Homo sapiens: one gene and its partners. The protein of the gene in region 5 interacts with the protein of the main gene of each other region in a biochemical or structural test. Each region holds a gene or a part of one and is shown on either strand. Other genes may lie near its edges.

What was found.
Region 1: the proteins of EIF2AK2 (region 5) and FTSJ3 form a complex in vitro, tested with the Homo sapiens proteins (one study listed by BioGRID).
Region 2: the proteins of EIF2AK2 (region 5) and STAU2 form a complex in vitro, tested with the Homo sapiens proteins (one study listed by BioGRID).
Region 3: the proteins of EIF2AK2 (region 5) and DUS2 form a complex in vitro, tested with the Homo sapiens proteins (one study listed by BioGRID).
Region 4: the proteins of EIF2AK2 (region 5) and STAT1 form a complex in vitro, tested with the Homo sapiens proteins (one study listed by BioGRID).
Region 6: the proteins of EIF2AK2 (region 5) and ZNF346 form a complex in vitro, tested with the Homo sapiens proteins (one study listed by BioGRID).
Region 7: the proteins of EIF2AK2 (region 5) and G3BP1 form a complex in vitro, tested with the Homo sapiens proteins (one study listed by BioGRID).

What each region holds. Positions count from the first base shown.
Region 1 is NC_000017.11:63,821,799-63,824,663, forward strand, and holds part of FTSJ3 (pre-rRNA 2'-O-ribose RNA methyltransferase FTSJ3), read right to left. Parts: coding exon 2,839-2,865; intron 2,614-2,838; coding exon 2,533-2,613; intron 2,442-2,532; coding exon 2,286-2,441; intron 2,155-2,285; coding exon 2,019-2,154; intron 965-2,018; coding exon of another isoform or gene 875-964; exon of another isoform or gene 791-874; intron 371-790; coding exon 186-370; intron 46-185; coding exon 1-45.
Region 2 is NC_000008.11:73,551,341-73,554,840, reverse strand, and holds part of STAU2 (double-stranded RNA-binding protein Staufen homolog 2), read left to right. Parts: intron 1-2,521; coding exon 2,522-2,829; coding exon of another isoform or gene 2,830-2,835; exon of another isoform or gene 2,836-3,500. UniProt on the Homo sapiens protein: RNA-binding protein required for the microtubule-dependent transport of neuronal RNA from the cell body to the dendrite.
Region 3 is NC_000016.10:68,057,784-68,061,283, reverse strand, and holds part of DUS2 (tRNA-dihydrouridine(20) synthase [NAD(P)+]-like), read right to left. Parts: intron 219-3,500; coding exon 171-218; intron 1-170. UniProt on the Homo sapiens protein: Catalyzes the NADPH-dependent synthesis of dihydrouridine, a modified base found in the D-loop of most tRNAs. Specifically modifies U20 in cytoplasmic tRNAs. Activity depends on the presence of guanosine at position 19 in the tRNA substrate.
Region 4 is NC_000002.12:190,972,672-190,976,171, reverse strand, and holds part of STAT1 (signal transducer and activator of transcription 1-alpha/beta), read left to right. Parts: intron 1-260; coding exon of another isoform or gene 261-284; coding exon 285-360; coding exon of another isoform or gene 361-364; exon of another isoform or gene 365-634; intron 635-1,239; coding exon 1,240-1,342; intron 1,343-3,500. UniProt on the Homo sapiens protein: Signal transducer and transcription activator that mediates cellular responses to interferons (IFNs), cytokine KITLG/SCF and other cytokines and other growth factors.
Region 5 is NC_000002.12:37,150,481-37,153,980, forward strand, and holds part of EIF2AK2 (interferon-induced, double-stranded RNA-activated protein kinase), read right to left. Parts: intron 1-3,500.
Region 6 is NC_000005.10:177,046,696-177,050,195, forward strand, and holds part of ZNF346 (zinc finger protein 346), read left to right. Parts: intron 1-3,500.
Region 7 is NC_000005.10:151,809,954-151,813,285, reverse strand, and holds the end of G3BP1 (ras GTPase-activating protein-binding protein 1), read right to left. Parts: 3' UTR 501-3,332; downstream 1-500. UniProt on the Homo sapiens protein: Protein involved in various processes, such as stress granule formation and innate immunity. Plays an essential role in stress granule formation.

The DNA of each region.
Region 1 (2,865 bases), on a different chromosome or scaffold from region 5:
TCCTCCTCCTCCTCTTTATCATCTTGCACTTCAGTAAGTCGCATACTGTAGACCCAAAGGAAAGTAGGGGGCTCAGAGACCCAGATTGCCTGGAGCCCTTGCTGCCCTACTCAGGCTCTGGTAGTACCCACCCTAACACTTCCTCAGAGTGGCAGCATTCCCTTTGGTGCACACGTGCCCCTTACCGCTTTTGGTCCCTTAGACCCTGATGTCCCCTGACTCCTGCCAGCTCCTCTGGATCCAGGTCACTATCCAGAGATGTGTCATCACCGTCGTCCTCAACATCTGACACATAGATATCATCCCTTGGCAGATCGGACAGAAATGTGTCTGCTGCACTCATATCCCCTTGTGTTACTTCCTCTAATAACTGAAGTGTAACAGAAACAAAGGTAAACTATTTAAAAGGAAATATACTGTTTTTTTTTCTGTGTCCCTCACCTCAGTCTATGCTCAGCAACACTAGAAAGAACACTGGCAAATCCATTATCCTTTCACAGATGGGAAAGCTCAGATCCAGGGTAGTGAATGGCCTGTTTACAACATCCCGTTCTAGGCTGGGTTACTGATCTATCCCACTCAGCTGTCTTGTCTCAGTGGTATCACAAATAGGTCTTAAGGAAGGTACCTACAGCCCACATAGCACCAAATCTTAACATATTCTACAACACTGGTTTTCCTTTAAAAATTATTCTCAGACAGCATCTCAATCATCTCCTGAGAATACCGTCTACACAGTTTGTTTCCACTGAATAAAAGGGGCCCAGCCAACATACATCCAACAAAACTGTTCCACTTAAACCAATTGTCAGAACCTTTTATTTTCCTCATGGTAAAGATACTAGGCTGGGTATGGTGGCTCACACCTGTAATCTCAGCATTTTGGGAGGCTGAGGCAGGAGGATTGCTTGATGCCAGGAGTTTGAGGCTGCAGTGAGTCATGATGGCACCACTGAACTCCAGCCTGGGTGACAAAACAAGATCTTGTCTCAAAGGAAAAACTCCAACTACTATTTCTTGAGTGTTTATCACATATGAGGGATTACACCTATCTTTTTTTATTCCTCACCAAAAACTCTAGTAGGTAGGTTCTATTATTGTTTTACAGATGAGGAAACTGAGGCAGCAAGGATAAGTGGTAGTCAGCTCAGTCACTTCACAAAGCTCCAGGTGGTAGAGCTGGGAAGGAAACCTGAGCCTGTGTCTGCTCTAGGGCCACCATGCTCTACTGCCCTCCTGTACAACAAAGATGACCTGATTATGACACTCCCACACATAAGCCACAAAAGTTCATTTTGTTTGTGACCCTGATTTTGTCAGGAAAAACATGTTCTTCAGTATTCAGTGGAAGTACCCTAATGCGAGTGCTCACTTGGTCTCAATGAACTAAAGAATGCTGCTCCCCTCTGAGGGAGATCCTCTATTCATCTGTGCTTGAAACTCAAGTAACCTGGCAGCATCTACTATAACCTAAGTTCTTTTCTGATGTTCTAGTTCTTCAAGAATAAATCTATCAGCCGGGCGCGGTGGCTCACGCCTGTAATCCCAGCACTTTGGGAGGCCGAGGTGGGCAGATCACGAGGTCAGGAGGTCGAGACCATCCTGGCTAACACGGTGAAACCCCGTCTCTACTAAAAATACAAAAAATTAGCCAGGCGTGGTGGTAGGCGCCTGTTGTCCCAGCTACTCGGGAGGCTGAGGCAGGAGAATGGTGTGAACCTGGAAGGTGGAGCTTGCAGTGGGCCGAGATCGTGCCACTGCACTCCAGCCTGGGCAACAGAGCAAGACTCCGTCTCAAAAAAAAAAAAAATAAATCTATCACACTCATCTATCTACCTAACTCATCCTTTTTGGTTTATGTTTCTTTGTGGCCTTATACTCACCAAGGCACCCTGTGGTGAAGACAGCAACCACAGCCTATCGTTCGGCAACCTAAAAAGACATTCAACACCCCCCACCTCCAAACACCCAAACAGATCCTTCTGTCTCCTAAACCTGCACCCCCAATGCCGCCTCACCTGGTGACCCCGGATGGTGCTCAAGGAGAACATGCCAGTCTCCCCCTCGTCTGCAATGGAAACCCCAGGCAGATCCATCTTCAGCTCCACACGCTCCCGCTGCTTTCTCTGCTCACGCAACAGCTTCTTTTTCTTCCTGAGGGGGTGGATTGAGGGAGTAAAACCGGCCCAGCTCCAAAGTTTCTATCCATGCCTTGCATTTTCTTCTCCCATCTTCACACAGTCCCTGCGTTGGGGAACTCCAAGCTCTACCCCAGCTCCTTTCACCTCTTCAATTCCGCCACCTCCTGGGCCTTCATTTCTGCCAAGGTCTGGTTCAGTTGTTCCTCCTCCTCCTCTTCCTCCTCCTCCTTAGAGGGCTGCTTTGTGGTTCCAGCTGTTGAGTCCTCCTCATCACCTTCATCTTCCTCTCCAGAGCTGAGGCTGGCAAAACAGTCCCAAGAGTTGGGTTATTTTCCCAGACTTTTCCCCTGGACACCCAGTCCACACCTGCCTCGCTGCGTTCTCTCCTCACCTGATGTCCAGTGCCTTTGCTTGTTCTTTCAGCTTCTTGGCCACATATCGCCGAAGTTTTGTTCTCCAGTTTAGTAGCGACCTGCCCCAGAGATACTATTACTGATCTTGCCATCTCCCTCTTTGTCCCCGCCCCCTTCTGTTTTAGGCTCACTACCCACCTTTCGGGCTTCGGCTACATAAATCAAAAGGCTCAGGCCCCCATCCCAAACCTTTAGCACAGCAATATCCTCTTCCCAGAGGTCCAACATCATGGCCTTTCCCTGCCTCCAGGGCTCCTGGCCCCCGTGCCTACCCCACTCCATACCTGAGCTCCTTGCGCCCCAACACTCTG
Region 2 (3,500 bases), on a different chromosome or scaffold from region 5:
GTAGGAGCCAGATTATTAAGGGCTTCCTAGGTTATCCTAAGGAGTTTGGGTTCTATAGTGTAACTGATAAACTGGTGAAAGACCTTTAAGTAAGAGAATGTTCTAGCCTTGGCAAGATGGTAGAATAGGAAGCCCTGGAACACAGCAATTCAACAATAATTTATAGGCAATTTTTCTTTGTGAGAAATCCAGAAACCAGTTAAGAGGCTCCTGTATGCCGGGTGAGCATGAAACCAGCCAGATCTTAATTGGCAGGGAAATTTAAGATACCCTCATGCCATAATCCCTCCTCACAGTGCAGGGCCATACAATCAGGACAACCACCCTCCACCCCCAGCTCCCAGCTTCTTTCTGCCTAGAAGGGGAAAGATGTATACCACGCATCCAATGCCTTAGCTTTTCTGGGGCTACCCAGAGGACTGGCTTCTGTCTGGCCAGTCTCAGAGTGCTGACAGGACATGGCATATTTTAGCAACCCCGGGGCCAATGAAGAAAGAGGTGGCTGGTGGTGGTGGTCACTGTAACCATCCCCTGCTCAGCCCAGCACAAAGCTAACTGTTGAAAAGCTTCAGCTTTCAGCTTTTTCCTGGAGAGGCAAAGAGGAGCACCATGTATCCAATGACCCAACTTATCTGGGAGTTGCCTGAAGAATTGGCTTCAGTCTTGCTTGTCTCAGAGCTCTGATGGGACTGAGACAAGCAAGGGACTGATGCCTGGGGACTGCCAAGAACAAAGAAAGTGGATTAGACTAGCATAAAAGTTTGAGAGGCCTCCAGAATCTCTGTCCAGGCTGATTGGTTAGGATCTTCTCCAGTATGAGGCCAGTTTGTGCAGACACAAACACAGAGAATCAAGGAAAAATGAAGAAACAGGAAAACATTTCCTAAATAAAGGAATGAGATAAAGCTCCAGAAACTGACCCTAATGAAATGGAGATATGTGATTTACCTGACAGAGAATTCAAAGTAATCCTTACAAACATTCCCACTGAGGTCTGGTGAACAATGCATGAAAAAAAGTGAGAATTTCAACAAAAAGAAAACTTTAAAAAGTAGCAAGCAGAAAGCATGGAGCTAAAAAATACCATAAACTGAAAAAGTTACCAGAGGGATTCAATAGCAGACAATGTCAAGCAGAAGAAAAGGTCATCAATCTCAAAGACAGGTCATTGGAAATGACTGAGTCAGAGGAGAGTTGGGCTAGCCTCCAGCATTTCCCAAAGTGTTAGCTGTTTTATTCATGCTATGTTAAAGGCTTGGACAAAAAGTAAACTCAGGAATCCTGAGTTAAACCAAGTCGAATAGATTTTTGTTCTTTGAGTTTTCTGATTCTTCACTATGCTAATGTGTATTTTTAATTTCACAAAAGGCATTTGTATTATGTAATTTGCATTATTTTCAGTTTTTATTTATGGAACCATTTTATTTGGGGACCATGTTATAGAACACATTTTGGGAAATGGACACTGAGAATACTAGCAGCAGAGAAACATTGAAAGCTTGAATCAGAAGGTTAGCATCAGGAGAGGAAGGGGCAAGAACAGGAAATTAAGTTGTGTCTCTCAGAGCACATTCTTTATGAGTGGTGACTTACCAATAATTTTAAAAGATAATATCATTTGAGAGTTATTGATACCTGATCAAAAGATAAGAATAAGCAGTTTGAAATGTGGTTTGAAACTTCTCTGAGACAAATGATAGTCAAAGGAAAGTGCTTCTCTAATATGGTTTAAGCTCCATCAACTAATGACATAGCCCCCACTCCTCTTGATTTCAGAACCTGTCCATGGCCTGGCTTGAATTAATGCACTAGATAATCCCTACAATGGTCATATTCTTGAGATGTTTGAGCAACACGATAACTACTTGCTTATGAGTAAATCAGAGATGGTTGCCAGGAGTCTAGGTTGGGTCATGAGCAGCCACATGGTAGTATGAGCAAAGCAAGTTAGAGACAGTGCTAGTTTTGAGATGATACCCATTTGCTTTTTTATGTGTTCGTGAGTTAGAGTTGTCTGTGGGACATCCTTGTGGAGGTGAGAGGATCACTAGGCTGTTGAATACATGCGTTTGTACCTCCAAAGAAATTTGGACTGATTCAGCCTTTATTTTACCTGATGTGCCTCAATTGCTGTATGTGTTGGGGTTTCATGCCTCTTTTATGAGATATAAAATATTAAATTGCAGGGTGAAGACACTGCACATTCCTGATTTTCTGCCCCATTATACTTCCACACATTCAGTTTCCCTTGTCCCTTTATAGCTTCACTACTACACATAAGTCCCATTGAAACCACTTTTTTTGGATGTTTTTAAACCTCTAATTTTAGGAAAATTGAAATAGACATTATTCACCTTTCAATAGAAGCTGCAACTGCCTCTACAGTATGACAAAGATACTTGTTTGGCAGTGTTTCTCATTTCTTTGTTACTACACCAAGTAAAGCCATTGAGTTAATAATGCTATGTTTCTATTTCGGTTATTTTAAGTGTAATAACAGTGTTCTTCATTTTATTTATAGCTCCAAAAGGAATTCTTCATTTGTCTCCTGATGTTTATCAAGAGATGGAAGCCAGCCGCCACAAAGTAATCTCTGGCACTACTCTAGGCTATTTGTCACCCAAAGATATGAACCAACCTTCAAGCTCTTTCTTCAGTATATCTCCCACATCGAATAGTTCAGCTACAATTGCCAGGGAACTCCTTATGAATGGAACATCTTCTACAGCTGAAGCCATAGGTTTAAAAGGAAGTTCTCCTACTCCCCCTTGTTCTCCAGTACAACCTTCAAAACAACTGGAATATTTAGCAAGGATTCAAGGCTTTCAGGTATGAATTAAAAGCAAAAACAAAAAACAAAACAATTCATTAGCCTCAGATTCTTCATCTGTATACATCACAAGGCTCATTCTTGCCTGCTAGTATGGCCTACATGCCACTTACGTTTTAAGTTATTTAGGAACACAAAGGACAGACAAAAAAGCCATATGCACATGCCTCATTTTCTCTTATTTTTGATCTATCTAGTAATTCTTTTGCTGCCTGTCTCTTCTCCATTTTCCTTCTTCTTTTTTAAGCATTTTTCATATTCTTCACTGTCTTCTATTTGGTCTTGATTAGGTGCATCTATCTCTTCGCTCTGTCTTCCACAAACAAAAATTCTGCCTTCAGACATTTGGTGTTAGTATTTCACACTCAGTTCTCCCTTTTTTTACATAAGGATTGAGTTTCTTTTTATGATGATTTTACCTTTATAGCAATTTTGAATTTTGCATTCTATTGCTAGTATTGATTCAGGTACACCATTAAGATACAACATTCTAGAAGTCTATTACCTTAGGAGTTAATTAAACATGATATTTGAAGAATAATGAAATGCTTTATAGTTGTTTGAGGCATAACAATGTGTATTTGTTTTACTGGATCATGTTTTGAACTGACTAGGGAGGGTAGCACCTGCCTCAGATAGTACCAACAATTCTGTTTCACTGGGTAGTCTA
Region 3 (3,500 bases), on a different chromosome or scaffold from region 5:
ACTTAGCTGCATGTCAAAATCACTGGAAAATTTTTTGGAAATCGCTAGGCCTCAGGGAGAGAAACTGGGTGGACATCAGTAAATCTGGTATTGGTGGAAGGAGGCGTTCTAGACAATTCTAGTTTGGAGCTGTGTTTGAGGACCCCTGCTTTCACTCGTGGAGGACTTACCTTCTCAATCTTGTCAGGGTCTGACAGCAGGGCAGCTCCCATTCCTCCCTAAGGAGAAACACACAAAAGGTCTTCTTACATCTGGGAGACACTATGGCCCTCTCCATGGGATGGGGTCTGGCAACTGAGCGTCACCCCGGCACTCACTTCCAAGGGACCAAGGCCCACTGGCAACCGGCACTTCTTTTAAACAAGTAGGAGGGCAGCAGTATCTGTGCCCATAACATCTGGGACTGAAGTGTGATAATTTTTTTTCTTTTTTTTTTGAGACAGATTCTCGCTCTGTCACCCAGGCTGGAGTGCAGTGGCGCAATCTCGGCTCACTGCAACCTCCACCTCCCCAGTTCAAGTGATTCTCCTTCCTCTGCATCCTGAGTAGCCAGGATTGCAGGCATGCACAACCACACCTAGCTAATTTTTTAATATATTTTTAGTAGAGACAGGGTTTCACCATGTTGGCCAGGCTGGCCAGACCAGAGTGATGACTTTTAAAATGTATAGGCTGGGCGTGGTGGCTCACGCCTGTAATTCCAGCACTTTGGGAAGCTGAGTCAGGTGGATTACCTGAGGTCAGGAGTTCGAGACCAGCCTGGCTAACATGGTGAAATCCAGTCTCTACCAAAAATACAAAAATTAGCCGAGCATGGAGGTGTGTGCCTGTAGTCCCAGCTATTCAGGAGGCTGAGGCAGAAGAATTGCTTGAACCCAGGAGGTGGAGGTTGCAGTGAGCCGAGATTGCACCACTGTACCCTAGCCTGGTTGACAGGGCAAGACTCCATCTCAAACAAACAAACAAACAAAAAAGTCATCATTCTGATCCCCTTGGTAAATCCCACAAATCTATCTAGAGTGGGCTATATAAAACTTATTTTTCAAGACTGCCCACTCCCTAACCCAGGTCTCAGTGTCTTAATAAACTAAATCCCACCATCTCCCAAGCCCTTAAAAAACAATGAATCATCCTTCATTTGAAATAAGATCAAATGTGCCTTCTTCCTATCATACTCAATGCTTGCATAGGCATCAACACCACCAGCAAAGCTACTAAGGTGCACACAACTTACAAACCTTGTCTAGGCCCTTCTCTTCTGCCAGCAACAATGTCCCAGCCCAGACCCATGCCCAACTCTAACCAAAGCCCCAGGAAATGGAAACTACCAACCCACACAACCACTTGAATCTTGATAATAGTAATGGTGGTTGCTTTTTATTGTGAGTTACTGGTGATTTTCCTGCTCTTTTCTGTACTTGTCTATATTTTCCAACTTCTAGACAATGGTATTAATTACTTTAATAATGGAGGAGGGGGATCTTTAAAAATCTGAATCCATTAAGAGTGAGATGAAGGCAAAAAAAACAATTCCAATAAATATATGCTGCCAGTATAAAGATTACATACTAATGAATGCTCACAGAATGTGCTCAGAAGGTGTAAGTTCAGTTATTACACTTTAATTTCATGTTTAAGGATGATAAATTGGAATCAGAGAGAACATTAAACCACCACAGACTCGGCCAGGCTGAGCCTGGATTTTAAAGAAGAATGGGTAGACTGGAAAATCCACCAAGCCTGGACTACATTGGTCATAAAAGAAACCTTGAAGGCCTTGAGGAAGCCCCAGCACTCCCCCTGGCTCCATCTGTCCTTCCACTCACACGTATCCAGCCCTTCCTTATAGAATCACAGGATCTAAAATTCAGTTTCACTGCCCCTTCCACAATAATAGCTTTCTCAACAATGGAATTTCCTTCCTTCCTTCGTTTCTATTAAACTTACTTGCTTTTTTGAATAGGTAAAACATTCAAAATTTGAGAGATTCAAATGGGTAACGAGTAAGAAGTCTCCCTGCCTAAGGAATGGGAAATGTTTCAATCTATACTTTTTTTTTTCTTTTGTTTCTCATATAGGGTCTCACTCTGTGGCCCAGGGTGGACTGCAGTGGCGTGATCTTGGCTCACTGCGACCTCTGCCTCTGGGGTTCATGCAATTCTCCTGCCTCAGCCTCCCAAGTAGCTGGGACTACAGGTGTCTGCCACCATACCTGGCTAATTTTTATATTTTTTGGTAGACATGCGGTTTCATTCTTTTGGCCAGACTGGTCTTGAACTCCTGACCTCAGGTGATCTGCCCGCCTCAGCCTCCCAAAGTGCTGGGATTACAGGCATCGGCCACCAAGCCCAGCCTCAATCTATGCTTTTTATCTGGCTTCAATTTTTGAACCATGAGAACACAGCAGATATTCAGCTAGTATGTACATGTGTGGCATATTGATTGGTGTCTCTTCTGACTGATCAGTGCCAGTGCTGTGCCAGTTAATTATTTTCAGTAGCACCCCTGTAATGGGAATTTACTACCTATGCATAACCAGATAAAAACTTAAGTTTCCTTCCCCAGAGGAAATCAATGTTACTAGTTTCTTCTGTGTCTCTCCAAAAATCTTCCCTGAATAAACAAATAAATATATATAATCATTCCCTATCCTCCTTATATAAATGGTATATACCACCTTACCCTGCCTCCAGATCATTTTAACTCTGCTCCTCACATAATTTAGGAACACAAAGAAGTAATCAGAAAACAGCAAAACCACCGGGCACAGTGGCTCACACCTGTAATCCCTGCACTTTGGGAGGCCGAGGCAGGTGGATCACGAGGTCAGGCGTTCAAGACCAGCCTGGCTAACATGGCAAAACCCCGTCTCTACTAAAAATACAAAAAAAATTAGTTGGGTGTGGTGGCGGGCACCTGTAGTCCCAGCTACTCAGGAGGCTGAGGCAGGAGAATCGCTTGAACCCAGGAGACGGAGGTTGCAGTCAGCCGAGATTGCACTGCTACACTCCAGCCTGCACGACAAGAGTGAGACTCCATCTCAAAAAAAAAAAAAAGCCCAAAGATACCTAAAGTCCAAGTCCAGCTGATCTTTTACCAACCAAGGTTTTCGATCCTGCAGTCTGCTTCTTCTTCATCATCTCCCACTCGACAAACCTCTGGTCAAATCGGGCTACTCAGGCCTCCCTGTGTCTACCTCATATTCATCCCCAGGCCCCTGCTTATACCACACCCTCTGCTTACAGGGTCCTAAATCTCAGCCCAAGGACAATATTTCCCTATCAAATTCCAAGTTTAAAGGCTGCCTTTCCACTCCCTTCTCTGGGCTACCATAGTCTGATCTCTTCTGATACGACAATGGGAACATTTACACTGCATCCACTTTTTTTTTTTTTTTTTTTTTGAGACAGATTTTCGCTCTTGTCACCCAGGCTGCAGTGCAGTGGCATGATCTTGCTCACTGCAACCTCCGTCTCCCAGGTTCAAGCGATTCTCCTGCC
Region 4 (3,500 bases), about 150 Mb from region 5:
CAGACTTCTTGTAAGATTTCAAGTTGTGTAAAGAGAAAGCTCCTAGCTAGTGTCCTGCTGAACACTAGCTTATTTCCAGACTGAATTCAGATCCTTCTTCTCGTTGTTTCTGCATTCCCACTAGAATTTTAGGTGACTCAGGCAGGGAGGTTATAGCTCCTTAAAGTTTTAGGAGGCTAAGCTGTCTAGAAACACAGTAGAACTTTAATCCCCCCGAAAAGTTGATGTTGTATTCTGATGGAATTTCGGTTGATGGAAAGCGTACACAATGTGTTTATTTCTAGCACCAGAGCCAATGGAACTTGATGGCCCTAAAGGAACTGGATATATCAAGACTGAGTTGATTTCTGTGTCTGAAGTGTAAGTGAACACAGAAGAGTGACATGTTTACAAACCTCAAGCCAGCCTTGCTCCTGGCTGGGGCCTGTTGAAGATGCTTGTATTTTACTTTTCCATTGTAATTGCTATCGCCATCACAGCTGAACTTGTTGAGATCCCCGTGTTACTGCCTATCAGCATTTTACTACTTTAAAAAAAAAAAAAAAGCCAAAAACCAAATTTGTATTTAAGGTATATAAATTTTCCCAAAACTGATACCCTTTGAAAAAGTATAAATAAAATGAGCAAAAGTTGATCAGAGTGGGAAAGTAGTTCTTTTCAATCTAGAAAAGGCCAAAGTAATGATTGAGATACACTGTCTCCACTTGCTTTGATTTTGTTGTTTCATTTTATAAAAGGTAGAAAAAATTTTGGAAATGTCATTGTCAGTTATTTGGCCTGCAGCACTGTCTTGGGGTGAATGGATGTAGCCTTCATGTAAAAACACTGTGTGGAGCAGCTTTATCTGCATTCAAACCTCAAGGTAGGGATGAGGGACTCCCCAGACATTTCTCTGGTGCTTTTCTGTCCAGGGTAAGCCACGAGGCATTGTCATCTCAGGGTAGTGCACCGCACATGCTCACACCTAGGCTTACCCAGGCAGAAGCGGCACAGATTCCAGTCTGGCTATTGCTTATCACATCCCTGGAGTGTGAAACATTTCCCAAGGGGCTGGGCTGGGGACATGAGCCTCCCATGAGCTGTACTTTTGCAAATGTATTTTACAAGTGTATGCACTTACCCAAAATAAAAATATAACGTGATAATTCAATTACAGACAAAAGATAAAGTGTGTAAGTATGCACTAGTGCTTTCATCACTCAGATGTTGACATTGCTCTTTTCTTTTTCCCCATTTTAGTCACCCTTCTAGACTTCAGACCACAGACAACCTGCTCCCCATGTCTCCTGAGGAGTTTGACGAGGTGTCTCGGATAGTGGGCTCTGTAGAATTCGACAGTATGGTGAGTACCACGGCTGGCCTGTGTGTAGCTCTCAATAAGTGTGTGTGCTCAGAGGCAGGGAGCGCACCATGGCAGATCCCGGGCCTGTCTGCGGGAGGGAGCCCTGGCGGAGCCAAGGAGAGTGCAGTGCTCAGATGAGCCATGACAAGTTGGAGCTGCTGGATTTAAACCACCTACATCATCAGTGGGATTTTTATTCCTCGCATTCAGCACCTTCCAAAAAACAAGTGACATTTCTAATATTCAGGTTTCCTCCTCTCCCCTTTAAAGTTGTCCATGTAGAAATTTCATATATTAAGGAACTAAGATTTCTTTGATAAGCAAATGTTTTTCTTCGGAATGCGATTTCATCACTGTGTCTAGGGGAGGGAGTGTTATTTTTAGAAAGGGAGGGACTAACGCTTGGTAGTTACAGTAATTAGAGAGAATTATACTTTAGCAGCAATGAGATTACTTCATCTGCCTTATATTTGAGAGCTAATTTGTACAAGTAGCTCCTGGGGCTGTGAAGGGCTTGCCAAGAGTAAAAGGTTCAAGGAGTGAAATAGTTAATGAGATTCGTGATAGAAATGGGAATATGATTGTCCACAAAAGGGAACATCTTCCTTTTGGAGGGTGCTTTTTTAGTATATCAACTAGTATTGTTTGCCTTTCAGCCTAAAATCCTTCCTCTTAAAGATTGTGCTTGCTTGGCTGGATTTTTGCTGATGCTGTTTAATTTTAAGCTCTTTTCCACATGGAGCTATTCCAGCTCATTTTTAAAAATTTATTTAATGCTTCCAAAAAATATCCTGAGTTATTACTGGCCTTTCTTCCTTACTGTATACCCGGTGCCTGGCAAAAAGTAGGTGCTCAACAAAGAGAGGAAGGCAGGGAGGGGAAAGGTGAGCGAGAATGAGAGGGCGTCACTCTTCAGACATTTGGGGAATGCGATGATAAGGCCTCAGTAAGATCTGCCTGGATTCAGGTTTCTCATGTGTAATTTTTTGACTTTTTTCCTCACCTTAAGCACGGGCTACAATCATTAGAGATTGTACCTTCCTACACTTTCCTGATTGTTGTTGACGAAATAGGCCATTTAGAAAAACAGTTAGCTATTGTGGCAGCGAAATAGTTTCATTCCTATTGGCAAGTGTAAAATGAACCTTTTCTGCATGTAAGAAGGATCCTGCTAGAGTTTCGCTCCCAACACTGCTATAGGCCTGGCACAAAAATGGAATAAATATAAAGCCCTATTCAGAAAATATGTTACATCACAGGAACTGTAAAATGGGGGGATTTTTTATACCTCCTTTGTTGTTCCTGAGCAAATTACATCATCATCACCACCACCATTAATAGGTGACATTAAGCACCTACAGTATACCATGTACTTCACAGGTAGTAACTCATTCAGTCCTCACAGCCACCTTCTGAGTTAGGTGTTATTGTTATTCCTACTTTGACAGATGTGGGAACAGAGCCCCTCCTCCCCACACAGCCCCTTTTATGTAACTTGACTAAGATCAAGCAGTTAGTAAATGGTAGAAAGAATATTTGAATCTACCTAGTGAGTCTCTAGTGCATGCTTTTGTCCGGTATCCTGGAAAGCCTCCCACAAAAAGCTAATCTTTGCCCCATTCAAAACATGCACCCTGAAGAAGCTGTTTGTACAGGATTGGGTTTATTCTGTTATTAAGACAAAGGCATCATGGCCTTTGGGTGAGAGGCCCGTATGTGTTTGGGATTTGGCAATCAGCATTCCATCTCTGTCATCACCATTATTGAGAAAATAGATGGATTGGTTCCCTCTCTGCAGTCCTGTGGAGCAGTTGGACTGCTCTCTCTGCTCTCAGGATGATACTGTGAGAACAATTTAAATATGCTAAGCACATGTCAGGAAACAGTTTTGTGGTCTTTGGACACTCGCTGTAGCCATTCCGTTCCATTTCAGGTGATTTTATTCATTTCATTTGTAGAATAAAATAAATCCATTTCACACACACACACACACACACACACACACACACACACCCTCTATACACCACTAAAGCCTCCCATTAAACCCATAGAAGACTTAAAGAGCTAAAAGAGGCTATAATATAAAAAAAAAAAAAGAAAAGAAAAGAAAAAGAGTTCATAATATAGGCACGGCACTGGTTAGACAACGGTTGAATCA
Region 5 (3,500 bases):
AGCAGAATTTTAAAGGTCATGGAACAATCATCATTTTCCCCATTGATTATTAAGATTGCTTTGCATGGCCATTTTTATGGTCCCACAGTACCATGCAAAATGAGGACCGCTTGTAGCCGGGAACAACACAATGCTTGCTTCAGGGAAAACTGATTTACACAGAAGTGACTAGTTGAGTGGTAAACTATTTTGGAAATAATCTACATATCTAAGTGCTGAAATATATTTCTCTTCTCCCCACGTATTCTTCAAATAAAAAAGTTTTAATACTTTAAAAAAGTGAAGTGTATGAAATCATGAAGGATTTAACTGTATGGATATAGATTTCTCTATGAAATCCCAAAAATCTCCCCTCTGAATTTTGCAGAAATCAATTTTAGGACAATTTAACCACTGAGTAAATTAAGACCTCTGTTTATAGGTCTCACTGGACCAAGTCTATAGCAATGATTTAAATTATAAACAAAATTTAGAGGATATAAAATATAAATGTACAAGCGAAAACTATAAAACTCTTAGAAGAAAATATGGGGGAGATCTTCATGACTTTGGATTTGGTGATAAAATTTTAGCTATGACAGCAAGAGCACAAGCAACAAAAGAAAACAGAGATAAATTGGGCTTCATCAAAATTTAAAACGTTTGTGTATCAAAGGACACTATGAAGAAAATAAAATGACAATCTACAGAATAGAATATTTACAAATCATATATCTGATGAGGGTCTAGTAACCAGATATATAAAGAATTCTTACAGCTCAACAACAAAAAGACAAACCACCCAATTAAAAAAATAGGCAAAGGGGCTTGAACAGACATCTCTCCAAAGAAAATATGTAAATCGCCAATAAGCACATGAAAAGATACTCAACATCATGAGTCATTAAAGAAATGGAATTCAAAACCACAACTAAATACAATTTCACACCCACTAGTATGGCAATAATAATAATAATCAGGAAATAATAAAAAATAAGTGTTGGTGAGGACATGGAGAAACTGGACCCCTCAAACACTGCTGATAAGAATGTAAAACAATACGGTTGCTGGGGTTCCTCTAGAAGGTAAACTTTGAATTATCATAAAACTCAGCAATTCCATTCCTAGATATTTCAAAGAATTGGAAAACAGGTTTCCAAACAAAGACTTAGACAGGAATGTACATAGCAGCACTGTTAACAATAGCCAAAAGGTGGAAACAAACCAAGTGTCCATCAACGGATAAATGGTGAACAAAATGTGAAATATATCTACACAGCGGAATATTATTCAGTCACAAAAAAAATGAAGTACTGATACATGCTACAACATGGATAGGCCAGGCGCCGTGGCTCATGCCTGTACTCCCAACACTCTGGGAGGCCGAGGCGGGCGGATCACGAGGTCAGGAGATCGAGACCACGGTGAAACCTCGTCTCCACTAAAAATACAAAAAATTAGCCGGGCGCGGTGGCGCGCGCCTGTAGTCCCAGCTACTCGCGAGGCTGAGGCAGGAGAATGGCGTGAACCCGGCAGGCGGAGCTTGCAGTGAGCTGAGATCGCGCCACTGCACTCCAGCCTGCGCGACAGAGCGAAGACTCCATCTCAAAAAACAACAACCACAACAACAAAAACATGGATAAACCTCAAAAACATTATGCAAAATGAAAAATCCAGACATAAAATTTCACACATATTGTATGATTCCCATTTATATGAAACTTCCAGAATCGGTAAATCCATAAAGGCAGAAATCAGATCCTGTAAACCTCTTAATTCTTCTTGGAAAGCTCTTTTGATCTTCTTTCTTCCAGGGCCACTCTTTCTGTTTTTTGTTTTTGAGACAGGGCCTCACTCTGTTGCCCAGGCTGGAGTGCAGTAACATGATCTCAGCTCACTGCAGCATCTGCCTCCCAGGTTCAAGCAATTTTCCTGCCACAGCCTCTCAAGTAGCTGGGACTATGGGACTACAGGTGCCCACCACCACGCCCAGCTAATTTTTGTATTTTTGAGGTTTCCCGGTGTTGGCCAGGCTGGTCTCCAACTCCTGAACTCCAGTGATCCACCAGCCTCAGCCTCCCAAAGTGCTGGGATTACAGGTGTGGGCCACCACGCCTGGCCGGGCCACTCTTTTTAACACACCTTAATCTTTGTAGCTCTAAATGCTGGCATGGCCCAACAATCCTCTTCTCTTCACTCTATACTTTCTCCTTAAGGTGATTTCTTTCACGTCCATGATTTCAGTGATCATCTATACGCCATTACCTCTAAAGTTTACATATTCCTTATGAACCGCTCTGAGTTTCAGATCTCTCTATCCAAATTCTCCACTTGAACATCTTGAACGAACTTTAAACTCAAAATATCCTGTACTGCATGTATGATCTTCTCCCAAGCTGGTTTGAAGTTTCCTTTCACAGGAAATGAGTCCACCATCTATCCAAGTCTGAAAGCCATCAATCTGGGAGGCATCCTTGACATTTCCTCTCCCTGCCTTCTAATCTATAACTAAGTCCTGTCACCAAAATCTTTCTACTTCTCAAAGATGTCTACACTTACCATCCTAGTTCAAGCCAACACCACCTCATTCCTGGATTGCTGTGAGAATCTCAGAACCAGTTCCGACAGCTACTTCAATTCCTTCTCTACCCTGCAACCATTGTGATTTTTTTTTTTATGTTTTAAAATTGTGATAAAATACACATAACATGAAATGTACTATTTTTCAATGTATTAATTCCCTGCCTTTAAGTACATTCACAATGTTGTGTAGCCGCCACCACATCCACATCCACAACTCTTAATCTTTCCAAACAGAAAGTGTGTACCCATTAAACAGTAACTCCCCATTTCCCAGTCCTTTCAGTCTCTGCTAATCTTTTTTTTTTTTTTTTTTTTTGAGACAGGGTCTCGCTCTGTTGCCCAGGCTGGAGTGCAGTGGTGTGATCACAGCTTACTGCAGCCTTGAACTCTGGGCTCAAGCGATCCTCCCACCTCAGCCTCCCGAGTAGCTGGGACCATAGGCGTGGGCATGCCTGGTTAATTTTTTATATTTTCTAATCTCTCTTCTGTCTCTGTAAATTTGCCTGTTCTAGGTACCTCATATAAGTGGAATCAAACAGTATTTGTCCTTTTGTGTCTGGTTATTTCACTTAGCAAAATGTCTTCAAGGTTCATCTATGTTGTAGCATATGTCAGAATTCCTTTCCTTTTTAAGGCTGAATAATATTCCGTTGTGTATATATACCATATTTTGTTCATGCATTCATTTATGAATGGACACTGGTTATTTCAACCTTTTGGCCATCTTGAATCATGCTGCTGTGAACACTGGTATACATATATCTGTTTAAGTCCCTACTTCTGAATATTTGTGGTATATAAGTGGAATTGAATCACATGATAATTCTGTTTAACTTTGTGATGAATCACCAAATTGTTTTCCACAGTGGTTACACCCATGTTACATTTCCACCAGCAATGCACGAGGGTTCTAATTTCTCCACATCCTCACCATCACT
Region 6 (3,500 bases), on a different chromosome or scaffold from region 5:
CTCCTATAATCTGTTTCTCCTATAATCTTATTGTTATATGTATCTTTGTATATCTGTGTGTATATTCGTTTTGTGTATATCTAGGTTAACTCCGTGTATATGTGCATATAAACATAGACTACTTTAAATAACTTTCATGTTTTTATAAAAACAATGCATACTCATTATGAATAATTCCACTTCAAACAATTGCAAAAGATACAAAGAAGAAAGTAAAATATCACCTAAATCCTACACCAAGAGAGAAATACTGTTAATATGTTGGTGATGTTTTAAAATACCAGTATGCACATATGGATTACACGTGTGGGGTTTTTAAAATTTTTTTATTTATTTTTATTTATTTATTTATTTATTTATTTATTTATTTTGAGATGAAGTCTTGCTCTGTCACCCAGGCTGGAGTGCAGTGGCACGATCTCGGCTCACTGCAACCTCCGCCTCCTGGGTTCAAGCGATTCTTCTGCCTCAGCCTCCCAAGTAGCTGGGACTACAGGCGCGTGCCACCGCGCCTGGCCAATTTTTGTGTTTTTATTAGAGACGGGGTTTCACTATGTTGCCCAGGCTGGTCTTGAACTCCTGGCCTCAAACAATGATCTTACCGTATGGTATGTACAATTGCCTTTTTTGTTTGTTTGTTTTTTGTTTTTTTTTTTTTTTGAGATGGAGTCTCCCTCTTTTGCCCAAGCTGGAGTGAAATGGCGCAATCTCAGCTCACTGCAACCTCTGCCCCACCAGGTTCAAGCAATTCTCCTGCTTCCACCTGCTGAATAGCTGGGATTACAGGTGCCCACCACCATACCCGGCTAATGTTGTTTTTTTGTTTTTTTGAGATGGAGTTTTGCTGTCGCCTAGACTGGAGTGCAGTGGTGCAACCTTGACTCACTGCAACCTCCACCCTCTGGGTTCAAGCAATTCTCTTGACTCAGCCTCCTGAGTAGCTGGGACTACCGGCACCTGCCACCACGCCCAGTTAATTTTTGCATTTTTAATAGAGACAGGGTTTCAACATATTGCTCAGGCTGGTCTTGAATTCCTGACCTCAGGTGATCCACCCACCTCAGCCTCCCAAAGTTCTGGGATTACAGACATGAGCCACCGTGCCCTGCCTAATTTTTGTATTACTAGCGATGGGGTTTCGGCATGTTGGCCAGGCAGATCTCTAACTCCTGATCTCAGGTGATTCACCCGCTTCTGCCTCCCAAAGTGCTAGGATTACAGACATGAGCCACCGCACCTGGCCATACAATTGCCTTCTATATGTTTTTTATTTAATATGACATTTGTATTTCCCCATGTTATTAAAAAATTCTTTATAAGCATTTTTAGTGACTGCATCGTACTACATTTAATATTCGTCTAATGCTGAACATTTAATCTCCCCACCCCCCACTTTTTGGTGTTACAGATAACACTACAGTGAACATCTCTGTAGAACACTTTATTACATTTCAGGTTATTTTCTGAGAACAGACTCTATATCCCTCATTTTATTGGATGCGCATTAAATGGTTCTAGACTTACTTACACTTTCACTTCTGATGCTTCTGTTCAGTATCTCAAAGAATGACCGTTCTCTCTTAACAACCATTATACCTCTTTTCTGATGTTAAAAATCTACATTCATTACAGAAAAGTTGGAAAATAGTAGGCCGGGTGCTCACGCCTGTAATTCCAGCACTTTGGGAGGCTGAGGCGGGTGGATCACCTGAGGTCAGGAGTTTGAGACCAGCCTGACCAACATGGAGAAACCCCATCTCTACTAAAAATACAAAATTAGCTGGGCATGGTGGCGTATGCCTGTAATCCCATCTACTTCGGAGACTGAAGCAGGAGAATCGCTTGAACCCCAGAGGCAGAGGTTGCAGTGAGTCAAGATCGTGCCATTGCACTCCAGCCTGGGCAACAAGAGCAAAACTCCATCTCAAAAAGAAAAAAAAGAAAGGAAAAGTCGGAAAATAGTGAAACACACTCTACTCTCTGTGCTTTTGATCTTTTTTCCATGCTGTCACCTATGCGTTTGTTGTTGTTCTATAAAATTGAGGACATAAGAAGCAGATTGATGTGTAACTTGTTTTTTTCTTTTTTTTTCTTTTTTTTTTTTTTTGAGACAGAATTTCACTCTTTTCGCTCAGAGTGGAGTGCAATGGCGCAATCTCAGCTTACTGCAGCCTCCGCCCACCTGTTCAAGCAGTTCTCCTGCCTCAGCCTCCTGAGTAGCTGGGATTACAGGCATGCACTACCACACCCAGCTAATTTTGTATTTTTTTAGTAGAGACTGAGTTTCACCATGTTGGCCAGGCTGGTCTCAGAACTCCTGAGTCAGATTATCTGCCTGCCTCAACCTCCCAAAGTGCTGGGATTACAGGCACAAGCCATTGCGCCTGGCCTGTAACTTGCTTTTTTTACACTCAACACCACAAACAGAATATTTTCTCATATTATAAAATATTCTACAACATGTACATTACTTTTTTGATGACTTGCTGAAACAAAATCAACAAGCAGAGAAACTGAAATTCCCTATACTAGAAAAACCATTGTGGGAAAGGCCAGCAAATTTCTTCTGGCTTGCCCAAAATCCTCAAAACTTCCCCAGTTGAAGTGATACAGGTATGGAAGAGCATCTGAGACATATCATCTGTGAGTCCTGCTGAGCCCCATCAGTCCTCCACCACTGGTGGGGGCTTCTGGGCCCCACATTTTTAAAGCAGTAGTTGCTAGGTTGACACCATTTCAGCCACATGGACTTGTTAGTGAGTCGTGGCATCCGCTTTATGAGGCAGCAGCGCAGCCTAGAGTCAACATCAAGCCATATGTTGATGCACAAGAGGCTCGCATGTATGCCTATACCAGGCTCTGATTCACTGAATTCATTGGCCAGAATCAGGGATGTTTTCTGAAGGCGTAAGTAAGAGCTATAGCCTTCAGGTCTTCTTGCCACACTGGCAGCCTGGCATAGCAAAGAGAGCACAGGCTTTAGGGTCACAGACCTGGCTTCACTCACTGGCTGGGTCACCTTGGGCAAGCCACTTCACTCATCTGAGCCTCAGTTTTTCTGAATAATGTGGCAAAGTGATACCTACCTCATTGGGGTAGTTCTGAGGACCAAAGGAGAAAATATATGTAGAAAACACATCACTAATTTTTTTTTTTTTGAGGTGGAGTTTCGCTCTTGTCGCCCAGGCTGGAGTGCAGTGGCGCAATCTCGGCTCGCTGCAACCTCCGCCTCCTGGGTTGAAGTGATTCTCCTACCTCAGCCTCCCAAGTAGCTGGGATTACAGGCACACGCCACCATGCCCAGCTAATTTTTGAATTTTTAGGAGAGACAGGGTTTCACCATGTTGGCCAGGATGGCCTCAATCTCTTGACCTCGTGATCCGCCTGCCTTGGCCTCCTGAAGTGCTAGGATTACAGATGTGAGCAAAACGCATAACTAAATGTTAATGGTCCTCTTTTCTCTCTACTCAGCCTATAATATGCAATGTAGCCTAAAAGGC
Region 7 (3,332 bases), on a different chromosome or scaffold from region 5:
CATCTGACAAACTGGATAAAACATGTCTTCAACTGCTTTGGACTTGAAATGGACAAAGTGAAACACAAAATGACCAAAACAAAAACCTAATACTTTTAAGCCCTCTTGATATTCCAAGACTGCCAAAGGCTATTCCACTCTCATTGTCTAGATCAGCATCACAGTAGACCTGTTGAATAAAAATCACCTTATCTAGAATTGATGCAAGTTACTGCAATGAATAACTTGTAGTACATTTAGGGTGAAGAGTGGCTGGTGCATGATTAGAATACTCAGTGACTGTTAACTTGGCAAGTGTTCAAACATACCACAGTGCTTCCAAATCACAAATCACTTGGTCCTCTCTCCCAGGACAGGCCACTTACGGAGACCTTATTCTCAAACTTGACTGGCCTAGGGAAGCTATAGAAAGAGACCAAATTACCTTGCAGCCATAGCTGTGAACACACTGGAGCCATACTTGAAAACTGGCGATGAACAGGACAACAGAGAGATACCAATTCATTGCTAAAACATTCCAAAATGAGTTTATTACAAAATAAATGCACAGTCACTGGAGGAAGGGGTTATTTTATTTATACACTCGATCTTAGATTTAGCAACCTTTCATTTTGACTCAGGATTCATTGACTAACTTAAGATGGGCTAGTTTCTGCCAACAGGGCAAGAGTGTGCAATCTCAGAGTCCCACCCAACCTGGCCAAAGCAAATGACTTCTGCATTAATTAGAAGTCATCCCCAAAGGACTTGCCCTTCATGTTTTCCCCATTTTGCCCGCTTAGATACTTGCACAAAAGATGCACCCTTTGTCTTTAAAGTTCCCTAGTTCGATGTTTAGGCAGAAGAGCAAATCCCAGGTTATTATTCTGCAAATAATTTTACATTTCCTTTATTCCAAAAATGTAGCTACCAACTTAAATGTATCATGACACACAAGGGGTAAAAGTTAGATACGAACTTCCAATAGCTAGGGCATGTTTCCTGAAACACTATCGTTCATTAGTACATTATTCAAGAAGTTACCTTAACCCCAAAGAATCTAAGAAGGGCACTGTGTAATTCTTCAGGTCACAATGCCAGCATGACTGTGGAGTCTGTTACAGGTAAGACAATCACAAGTTACAATGCTGTGATTCCAAATACTTTGGGGATGTAGAAAATGTGCTTAGCTGGGCAGCATGAATTAGCTCAGCAACATAGTGCTATGATGGAAGAGGTTCAAGATGATTCATACTTTCACGCCAGACCAGAAGTCACAAGCTCACATAGCGGCAACTCTGACAGCTAGCCAAAGTAGAAGATACTTCTAAAAAGCAGCCTGGGGACATTTTAATTAATTGGCCTGGAAAATCAGGTCAGAATTACAAAGTTCCTCATCCTTATGAAGAAGAAAATGTGATAGTATGTCTTTTATATGGAAATTTCTTTGTATATATGTATAAACTTGGTATGGCCTTAATGCTGCAGTTAAGGATTTGTCTGGCTACCACCTTAAGCAGCGTGTTAAGCAATCGCTTCCTTAATGTAACATTTTTACTTCTTACTGGACACTCAACCTTGAACAACTAATTCCCTTTTGCCCCTTACTCTTCCCCCCTTTTTTTGCATGAAGTCACAAAAGTTATGGCAGTTATTTTTTGGCTTGTAAAAAAAAAAAATCTATTTCTGCAGTTTGAAGATGGAATGTAAAATTTCTGTGAAACATGTATATAAAAGTATATTTATTGAACCATCCATATACACATATCCATGCTGATTCCAATGGAAAAAAATTAAAGTTTTCTGAAATTTTCTGTGGTTAACTCATAATTATTACTATTTAACCAACTTTATATGCAAGAACTTCCAATTACCCCAGGGAGAAACCTATGTATGACCTGGAAAACATCTCACTTTAGACAAGGCTTTATGTCGAGAAATGAGAATTCATTTGTTCATTCAAGAAGTATTTATTGATAGGTGCTAGGCAAGATACAAAGATGACTCAGACACAGATCCTGCCCATAAGGAGCTTACAGTCTAATAGGGGAGAGAGAACACATACATGGAATACATGGTCAGAACTATGTTTCAGTAAGATGAATCTAACATTGTGTATAAAGTAGGCTGGAGTAAGAGGTTAAGTGAAGCTGAGAGACTACTGAAATTACATAGGTGAGGAAGAAAGACGGGAAAGACTTGAGGTAGAACTGACAGGACTTAGCTGAAGACTGGATGTGGGGAATAACAAAAATGGAAGCAGATGACTCAGACTTTAGCATGGATGATGTCATGAACTGAAAGAAGGAACAAGTTTTTGCAAAGAAATGAAAATTTCATATAAAATTCTTCTGCATAGAAACAAACTGTCTGGGATATACTAGGCACAATCAGGAAGAAATGGCTAGTTACCCAGACCAATGGAAGCACCTCAAACTGGCCAGTGACTTCCTCCCCCTTATATATCCATCCCCCCAAATTTCCCAACAATTTTCTCCACTGAAATGGTATAGTGCCTAAAATTTATTAAATTCAAGGTCTATCTCCAGACATGGCCTCCCTTGGGAATGAAAACAGAAATATATTAAGTTATTCAACTCAGTAAGTTTCATCTAAAGACTCTAGTTATGAGTCACTGTACCTTCTGGTGGAATACAGAGATGAACTCCCTAGTCCTTATCTTCTAGGAGCTTACAGTCTAGTAAAGTAGTAAAACAGATAATGTAATTCTAATTCTAGACTGAAGGGGTAAGTTATGAACTACGAGAAAGACAAAGTGCTCTAGAACAGTTTCAGAAATGAAGGTTGGAACAGGACCTCAAACAAGAGGGAAAATGTGGAAAGTAGATGAGAATGGATTTGTTCCTCACTCCAAATTCTGGACAGATCAGCCCCAAAACGGGGCTACTCCCCATTCCTGTTGAAATTTTTTCTTAGGAAAAAATATAGCTCTTGTACTGATCTTTTAAAAAATTACTTACATGGCAAGAGATCAGAGGAAAGGGGGGATTGTAGATCTCAGTGGACCTTCGGGGAAGACAGAAGGCACTTGAAGCCAAGGAATCACAATGCCTGGCTTATCGGGAGGACCCTCAGTGTTTTAGCAAGGCTGGAGCATCACTTCCATGAAGAGTGGGAGAAATAACTCAAAAGTAATATTAAGACCTTGATATAAACATGGCATTGCCAGGCACTAAACAGGGTACACGCCTAAGACCAAATTGCTGCCCCCTAGGAGCTTACAGTTACAACAATACAAGGTGGAAAAAGCACCACAATGTACAGAATGCAAAATGCTGAAGTATTTAGGAGAAATTACAGCTGAGTTTCAGCTATTAACACATTAGGATACC